2 linked regions of the Homo sapiens genome follow. The protein of the gene in region 1 purifies or fractionates together with the protein of each later gene. This does not show direct contact. Each region holds a gene or a part of one and is shown on either strand. Other genes may lie near its edges.

The links. The genes of interacting proteins can lie anywhere in the genome.
Region 2: the proteins of SZRD1 (region 1) and GNL2 purify together in Homo sapiens (co-immunoprecipitation; one large-scale study listed by IntAct). This does not show direct contact.

The regions. Positions count from the first base shown.
Region 1 is NC_000001.11:16,390,545-16,395,740, reverse strand, and holds part of SZRD1 (SUZ RNA-binding domain-containing), read right to left. Parts: intron 4,367-5,196; coding exon 4,317-4,366; intron 2,514-4,316; coding exon 2,259-2,513; intron 704-2,258; coding exon 601-703; 3' UTR 1-600.
Region 2 is NC_000001.11:37,569,074-37,572,779, forward strand, and holds part of GNL2 (nucleolar GTP-binding protein 2), read right to left. Parts: intron 230-3,706; coding exon 1-229. UniProt on the Homo sapiens protein: GTPase that associates with pre-60S ribosomal subunits in the nucleolus and is required for their nuclear export and maturation.

The DNA of each region.
Region 1 (5,196 bases):
AAACATTTTTAAGTAGACTACCAAACTACCCTTTCTTAATTAAAAATTCATTAAACCACTAAAACCCCTCCCATGCACTTTTTCTTGCAAATCAGATATTTGTATAAACAAACAAAAATAGGAAGAAAAAAAAAAGAAAGGATATTTTCAAATGGAACTTACTTTTTAAGTGATGGAGACATGCACTTGGGGGTGGGTGGGTGTGAGTTTTCATTTGTGTTTTGAAATCCCAAATTAATGAGCATGATAAACTGTTATTGCTGGCACTGGCTTTACCCCAAGTGGCCAAGTGGCACTGTCTGACTCTCTGAGTCCTTGCTGGGTCCCCCCAACCTTCCCCTAACCCCCACCCTTTCCCTTTCCATTGACTTGGGACAGCCCTTGTCGATGTGCCAATCACAGTGGGAAGGGGGAGAAGGGGGGAGGTCACAGTGCATGGGGTTCAAGGTCACAGTGGGCGGAGCAAGGGGGATCACAGTGCAAGTAAGTCAGGTCGTTCCCTCTGCTCAAGTCCAGCTGTCTGCCACGGCAGTGCAACCCGTGGCGGACGACCCAGGAGGCGGTGACGGCAGCAACGGCGGCATCTTTTCTTGCCTGCATTTATCTGCGCTGTTTGAAGCCTTGAGACCCATCAGGACCCAAAGGCTGTCTGATCACATTATTGGGCTGCCTGCTGTCTTCGGGTTGGGAGATCCTGGTTGGCCTGAAAGGAAGAAAAGCAGAGGAAGGCCTGAAGAAGGATATAATAGATGTCCCCCATCATTTCTTTATTTTTTATTTATTTTTGAGACGGAGTCTCATTCTGTCACCTAGATTGGAGTGCAGTGGCACGATCTCCGCTCACTGCAACCCCCACCTCCTGAGTTCAAGTGATCCTCCTACCTCAGCCTACCGAGTAGCTGGGACTACAGGCATATGCTACCACACCCAGCTAATTTTTGTAATTTTAGTAGAGATGGGGTTTCACCATGTCGGCCAGGCTGGTCTTGAACTCCTGACCTCAAGTGATCCGTCCACCTCGGCCTCTCAAAGTACTGGGATTACTGCACCTGGCCTAGATGTCCCCCATCTTAAAATCAACTGTCCATATAGCTGGGCCCACGTCACTCTGGCTCCGCAAGCCTGCTTCTTTGGGAAGCTGACTCAGGGCACCTCCAAGTTGAGAGGCCCCTGTGAGCAGGCAGGGTCGGTGGTGCACATTCACCTCTAGCAGCTACAGCATCCTTTCCCCCTGCTCAGCTGCCATCATGCACTTGTAGGCAGGGGGAGTGCTTGAGGGCCCACTCTGCCCAGAGGCAGTGACCATGGATAGCACATGCTCCGCAGAACCATTTGGAATCTCCAGAGTGTTAGGCCAAAGTAAAGAACTGGAATCAAGAGCTCAGCAGAGGGACACATCCCCCGCCCCCCAATTCTTCCCTCCCACTCCTCTCCAAACTCTGCGGTTAACGGTTGACTCATATGACTATTTTTCCACCCTGGAAAGGTGAAGACTTAGAGGAGAAACAACAAAAAGAACAGGTATCTCTTCAAAATTATGAAGAGCTAGAAAGAAGGTACGCAGATTTTTTCTTCAAGTCCCAGAATACCAAACCATAGCAGCCCCTCAAAGTTAGAAGGAGGCCATCTTAATGAATACTGTTTGATTCGAAAGTGATAAACTTATATGATGCAACCTTTAATACTGCAGAGAAAAAAATGTTAAGAGTAAAAAGGAATTTAGAAAATTCACAAAAACATCACAGTGGGCATACTGGAGACCCAGAAAATATCATCAAAGCACTTATCTGGGGTACTTTCCACTCTGCCAGCCCAGGCTCTCCACATCCTATGCTCATTTACTCACTGAATTGCACAACACCTTGATAAGGTTGGTACTATTATTATCCCATTTTTTCAGATGAGAAAACTAAGGCCCAGAGAGGTCAAGTCGTTCTAAAGAAGAGGTAAGAGGCAGATTTTGACACAAGCTCATCTGTGCCTTCACTCTCTACACAACAGTGCCCCCGGTGACTACCAACCGCAGAGGGAGCATGCCAGCAAACTGCCACCTCCTCCCTGGCAAGGCTTTCAGAGCCCTCTCCAGCCAATGCGGCACAGTGAACTAGTGCCAGCAGGCTGGGATCAGCAAGTGGAGCTGCATGGTTCCTACCCTGACTCTGCTTGCTTCTCACTACTCTACACGCAGCCAGGATGCTCTCCTCTTCCCGGGTGGACTGGGACAGCCATCACTGGCCGGCCCTGCCAGCCACACTCACCTGTCGAGGATGGGTTTCTCCTGCTCCTCCTCGGGGCTGGCGCTGCCCAGGATCCGCTTCCGGGCCTCGGCGTACTCGGCCTCTCGCTGTGCTAGGGACTTGACTGGAAGGGTGGGCCTGCTGGTGGAGTTGGGGCTGCTGACCACACCGTTGCTGGTGGGCCTCTTGAGGATGCGGATCTGTGGAGGGGGCCCCGCGGGAAGGCTATCGTCCTGAATCACAATGGGCACTTTGGGAGGAGATTTGGATTTCCTGCTGACAAAGAGCAAACACAGCTTCACAAATCATGCTCCTGACTAAGGAGGCCCTGTCCATGTCCCACACCCACCTCTCATCACTTTCCTCTCCCTCCCTAATTCTACCCATGCATGATTCTCTGGCCTCTGACCAGACAGCAAAATTTCCACTCCTCAAGAAGGGTGTCCCAAAAAAGTAAGCTTGCGACCAGCTCTGACAGGCCACAGGAACTGCTCCTCAGCCCTAACCCCTGGCCACAGGGGCTGGAACGCCACCTCATTCTGGCACTTCTATCCCCATGTTCACCACAGCCACATCAACCACTATTTGGCCCTGCAGCAAAACAGTTTATGTCCAGAATTGAATGACGTCAGTTAAGATCCCAGCTTCTCTACGCAGATCAGAGTAGGACTGGCTGGTGGGGTGGGAGCCTTTGAACTTGGGGGTCAGCAGTGTTCACTCAGCCAAATCTTCCATCACATGCTCAAACCAGACAAACACTACAAAGGAGCCCACTACGCCATCCCTGCCTGGCATCAAGATTTACCAAGCCACCTTCTAGTGAGAGTGACCTGTGCCTCCCAGAGACAAGCTACACCAGACAACTGAATCCTCTTCAAAAAGCTTCTGAACAGAGAAACCTCCCTTGCCAGGGCTCCCTGGTCTTTTGGACAGCGGCGGGGCTGGAGTGAAGGATGCTCCTAGAAACAGTGCTTGGCAATGCTCAAAAGAAAAGCATTGTCCAAGGCTGGTGGACGCGTACATCAAGGCGATGTGTCCACAGGGAGAGGTGGAATGACAAAAAACAAAGAGGGACAACAACACAGGAAGGGAAAGAAACAAAAGCCACAGGAGGAGACAGGAACCCAGGCAGGAATGACCACCCGACAACAGCCACCAGGACCCTACCCAGAGCAGTCAACCAGCTTCTCTTCAGAACCAAACAAGCCTGCTTCCAGAGCCTTGGCTGTCAGGAGGAGTCGGGATTGGAGGAACTGAGCCAGGGTGGATGGAAACAAGTCTCGGGTAGGACACAAATGGTATGGAACGAGGACTGTAACCCAGGGTTAGCGTGGTTGCTGAGATGAGCAGACAGACAAGGAGCCAGCAATCTGATCAAAGAGGCAGGGAGCCAGGAAAACTAGCGGGCGGGCAGAGCACCCAGAGTTTCCTGGGGAATGACTGTGCAGCCCCGTGAGCAAATCCAGAGGGGCCCTATCCTCCTTCCTGTCCCTTGTACCTATGGAAAACCAACAGGTTCCCTAAGCCCAAAAGCAGAAAGCCGAAGTCAACTTTCACCTACTCTGGAAACACCCTCCTCTGTCGTCTAGGTGGAAAACAAAGCTATTTTTAAAGGTTTTTTCAAGAATTTCCTAGAATGTTTTCTTCCAGGATACCCTCATAATACCCTAGACCACCAAGTCACTGGGGACCCAGAGAAATCATCTGCCCACACTCCTCATGCCACAGAGAAAGAAACTGATGTCCAGATCTGGGAAATGACTTGCCCCAGACCTCAGAGCAACTGGGGCACTGCCAGGCCTAAAACTCAAGTCTTCCAACTTGTCACTTCCTCACATTGCATCAGATGACCTCACACAGGGAGCCCACGAAGGTCAGAGGCAGGTGCAACACCCCAGCCTCAACCCTAAAGCCTCAAGCCACCACGTCCTGGTCTCCAATTTGGAGGGAAGGGTTTGCTGCCCCAGAGCCTGACCTGCTAGGACCTGCTAATCCTAATGGCCAGCTGGAGAACACCACTGACTGCCCGGCTCTCAAACCACAGAGAGCATGAGCCCTCAGACCAGACAGCAGCCTTACCTCTCTTTTTGTGTGATCTTCAGTTTTTTTTCCAACCGTCTGTCTATTTCCTAGAGGAAAAAAATGTATATAAAAAGAGGAAAAAATCTCTCTCAAATAAAAACTTAGTCTTTATTTTTGGAGCTAAGGGCAGTGTCCTTTCTCTAGCCAGGGACATGACTGTGTCCTTCAACATAACAAATGTGGACTAGATTTTGGGGTTTGGGGACCTGATACCCTCTGCAGGTCCATCTCCCTTCTAGCCCCATGGCCGCCATGACAGTTCTAAACCTCATTGTTCAGCTGGGTTCTTTGCATAGCCTCCAACCAGTTTTCTGACCTGTAATCTGTCTTTCACAGAGCCACTCATATCAACTTCTAAACCTAAACTTAGGAACACTTACTCTATTTTATGAAATAAAGAGTTGGAAAAAAAATTAAACATAAATCTGATCATGTCACTTCCCTACTTTAAACCCTTCAACTGCTTGCAGACCTAGTCAAAGCTTCTGAGCATGCCTCACCCATACCTTCTTTTACCTTCTGTCTCTGTTTTGCTATCACTAGCCCCCAGAACTCAGCATGCTGTTCCACCTGCCTGCAATGTCCCCTCCCCTTGCAAACTCCCATTGATCCTGCACAACCCAGCCTGGATGTCTACCTCTCCTTTATAAAGTCTCCTCTGATCCCACCAGCATGGTGCATCACCTGGTCCTCAGAATAAACTCTCCCTTTTACATTCCTTTATGGTCATATCTAATATTTTAATAATGTATTTTTTACTGTTACGGACTTGAACTCTCTGTGACTGGCACCTACCGAAAGGCTTAGAGTAAAACCTATGCCTTATGTTTGTGGCTTTGGAGGTCCATGGTCTACAAGTGAACATGGGGAACCTGAG
Region 2 (3,706 bases), about 21 Mb from region 1:
GAACCAGGTCATCCCCAGAAAACTGAGGCACCACGTTGATTTTACCAAAGTTCTGCCGAACTCGTGTGAGAATCTGCTGCATCTCTGTGTTAGCATCACAGTGACTGTTCTCTTCTGTTTCTTCCTTAATGATGGATTCTGACCCTTCACCTGCAGTTTCTGTGACTTCCTCCCCTGGATTGTTCTGGGCTGCTTCTGGGACAACTTCCAAAGATGAGGAGGGTAGAAGCTATTAAGGGGTGGAAATGGGGGAAATAAATAGAATCAGAAAATGAAAAATGGAATTTCTGAACTCATATCTTGCTCTTAAACAGTCCTCTTCTCAGGACTAAGGGAAGGTATTGAAAACACCCAAATTTGAGTCATTTCATTAATGTATTTTTAAACCAATGTACATTAAGCCCAGAGATCAGTACTAGGATCAAAGGAATACATGTGTAGTTCCACAGGATGAACCAACTAAGACTATTTAAACCATTAAAACCAACCAATGATTTATCATAGAAAAGCAAGGCTCCCTAGACCTTCCCTAGGGGGCTGCTGATATAAGCACATGCAAAATCAGCACACACAACTACATAAAAATGAAGGCCAGGCTGGATGTTACAGATGAGAACAGTACTAAGAGAGGCATTTGAGGAGGTCCTCTGATTTAAATGTGTCCCCCAAAATTCATATGTTGGAAACTGGTATGGTTTGGCTGTGTCCAAATCTCATCTTGATTTGTAGCTCCCATAATCCCCATGTGTTGTGGGAAGGACCGGGTGGGAGGTAATTGAATTATGGGGGCAGGTCTTTCCCATGCCGCTCCTATGATGAATTAAGTCTCACGAGAGCTGATGGTTTTATAAAGGGCAGTTTCCCTGGACACACACTCTTGCCTGATGCCATGTAAGACATGCCTTTGTTCCTCCTTCACCTTCCGCCATGATTGTGAAACCTCCCCAGCCATGTGGAACTGTGAGTCCATTAAACCTCTTTTTCTTTATAAACTAACCAGTCTCATGTATTTCTTCATAGCAGTATGAAAATGGACTGATACAGAAACTTAATCCCCAATGCAGCAAGTGTTGGTAGGTAAGGCCTAATAAGAGGTAATTAGATCATGAGGGCTCCATCCCCATGAATGGACTAATGGATCTCGGGGATGGGTTCGTTTTTAAGAGTGAGTCTGTTGGCCGGATGTGGTGGCTCACGTCTGTAATCCCAGCACTTTGGGAGGCCAAGGTGGGCAGATCACAAGGTCAGGAGTTCAAGACCAGCTTGGCCAACATGGTGAAACCCCATCTCTACTAAAAATACAAAAATTAGCTGGGCCTGGTGGCATATGCCTGTAGTCCCAGCTACTCAGGAGGCTGAGGCAGGAGAATCACTTGAACCCAGGAAGCAGAGGTTGCAATGAGCCGAGATCGTGCCACTGCACTCCAGCCTGGGCAACAGAGCAAGACTCCGTCTCAAAAAAAAAAAAAAAAAGAGTGAGTTTGTTATAAAAGCAAGTTTGACCCTCTCTTGCTTGCTCTTGTCCTCCCACTTTCCACGATGGGATGACCCTTGTCAGATGCTGGTGCCTTGATACTGGACTTCCCAGCCTCCAGAAACATGAGCCAAAACAATTTCTGTTCATTATAATTACCCAATCTGTAGTATTCTGTTGCATCATCACAAAACAGACTAAGATAGGAGGCATCCTGAAGCAAGAGTATAAGGTAAGGAGGGGGAATTCTGTGATTGAAGAGAGTTCATTAGAGAACTAAGTCTGGGGACCCTGAAATGACTGGCCTGTTTTAGGTAACCGCAAAGATAAGTATGTGCCAAGCTTTCTACTGGTGTTTCACATGTATAATATCATTTTATCCTTGCAACAAAAACTCAGAGAACTTAAAAGTGATGTTCTAAAGTCAAGAGTGGCCGGGCAAATCACTAAATAAGTACAGAACTATAAAATTCAGGAAACCACACACAAAATTTATACATACATTTTTCTAGGAAGGGCAATTTTTGGCTTTCAGTTTCTGAAGGGGTTTCTGCTCTTAACCAAAAAAGAAAAACAGAATCACAGAGTAAGGCATATGAGAGTGAAACTGCCTCCAAAGGGTTGACAAGAAGTATCTGCCAAGTTCTGGACAGAAATACAATTATAATTAAGCACTAATTAGGGGGCACTTTGGCCCATATCCTTGTTGCTAAAAGTTCCTGAACACTAGGTACTGACCATTTGCATCCCCACTGTCCCTATAGATAGGATTTCTGACATTTGGGTCATAAGACTATGTAAGAATTGATATGCACCCCCATTGTTCCTATAGGCAAGATCTCTGACATTAGAATCATAAGGTTTTTGTTTAAGGATTGCTTAAAATGTCTTTTCAGATCCCTAATTCCAGCAACCAGTTTGAAGATCCCCAGAGAAACGGGATCTGCATGAGAACACAGCTTCTTCATCTCCCTGTCCGTGACTTCACCCTGCACTCTTCACCCAACCAATGACCCTCACTCCAGCCCACTCCAAAACCCTTAAAACCCTAACCCCAAACTCCTCGTGGAAATGATTTCAGGATTCCTCCCATCTCCTCCTTTGGTGACCCTACGGTTAAACTTCTTTCTCTGCTGCAACCTGGTGGTGTCTCAGCATATTGACTTGCTGTGTGCATTGGGCAACAAATCTATTATGGTTACAATAGTTCTTAAGAATTATCTGAACTACTTATCTACACTTACTGACTACATACGGAGGAAGGGCTGAAGACAATGCCAGTGTTTCCACACAGGGTCCCAAGACAGCAGTGATACGGACATCCAGAATGACCCTAGAATCCAGCTGCTAACTCAAAACCTCCAATGGCTTCCCACCATGACACCCTCTCCTGGCCCACGACATTCCAGCCACAGTGACCTCCTTTCAGCATCAGGACACACAGAGCATACTCCTGCCCCAGCTGCTCTGGATGTGCTGTTCCCCTTGCCTGGAACATTCTCCCTAGATACTAGCATGGCTCCTGTCTCATATTAAGGGCTCTGCTGAAGTGCCACTGCCTCAGAGGCCTTCCCCGACCACCCCAAAGTACTCCTCATCTCCCCCAAACCCCTTAGCCTGGTTTAGTTTTCCTCACAGCACGCAAGACTTCCTGACATTATATGTTTATCTGCCTACTGTCTCCCTGTGATATAAATGTCACACTTCCTGGCACAGAGCTCCTAAGACCCTTGGAATTTCCCAAGCGATGGGTATCTTTTTTATTGATTACAAGCCCCTTTCCACCACACCTGAGTTTATGCTAATGTGGTGACTCATGGTAGACCCCTAGATAGCTTCAGGATGGGGGATGCGCTGGTCACCAGAAAGACAAAGCACTTGACCACATGGTTGGTGCTTTCAGCCACTCAGAGGAGAGAAGGGAGACCAGAAATTGAGTCTATCACCAACTGCCACAGATTTCATCAGTCATGTCTATGTAATGAAACCTCCATAAAAACCCCTACATGATGGGGTTTGGAAAGCTCTGGGTTGCTGAACACATCAATGTGTGGAGAGGGCATGGAAGCTCTGTGCCTCTCCCCCATACCTTACCCTGTGCACCTCTTCCACTGGCTGTGACTGAGTTTCATCCTTTATCATAAACCGTTAATTGTAAACACAGCACTTTCCTGGGTTCTGGGAGTCCTTCTGGCAAATTATCAAACCCCAGAACCCCTGAATTTGTAGTTA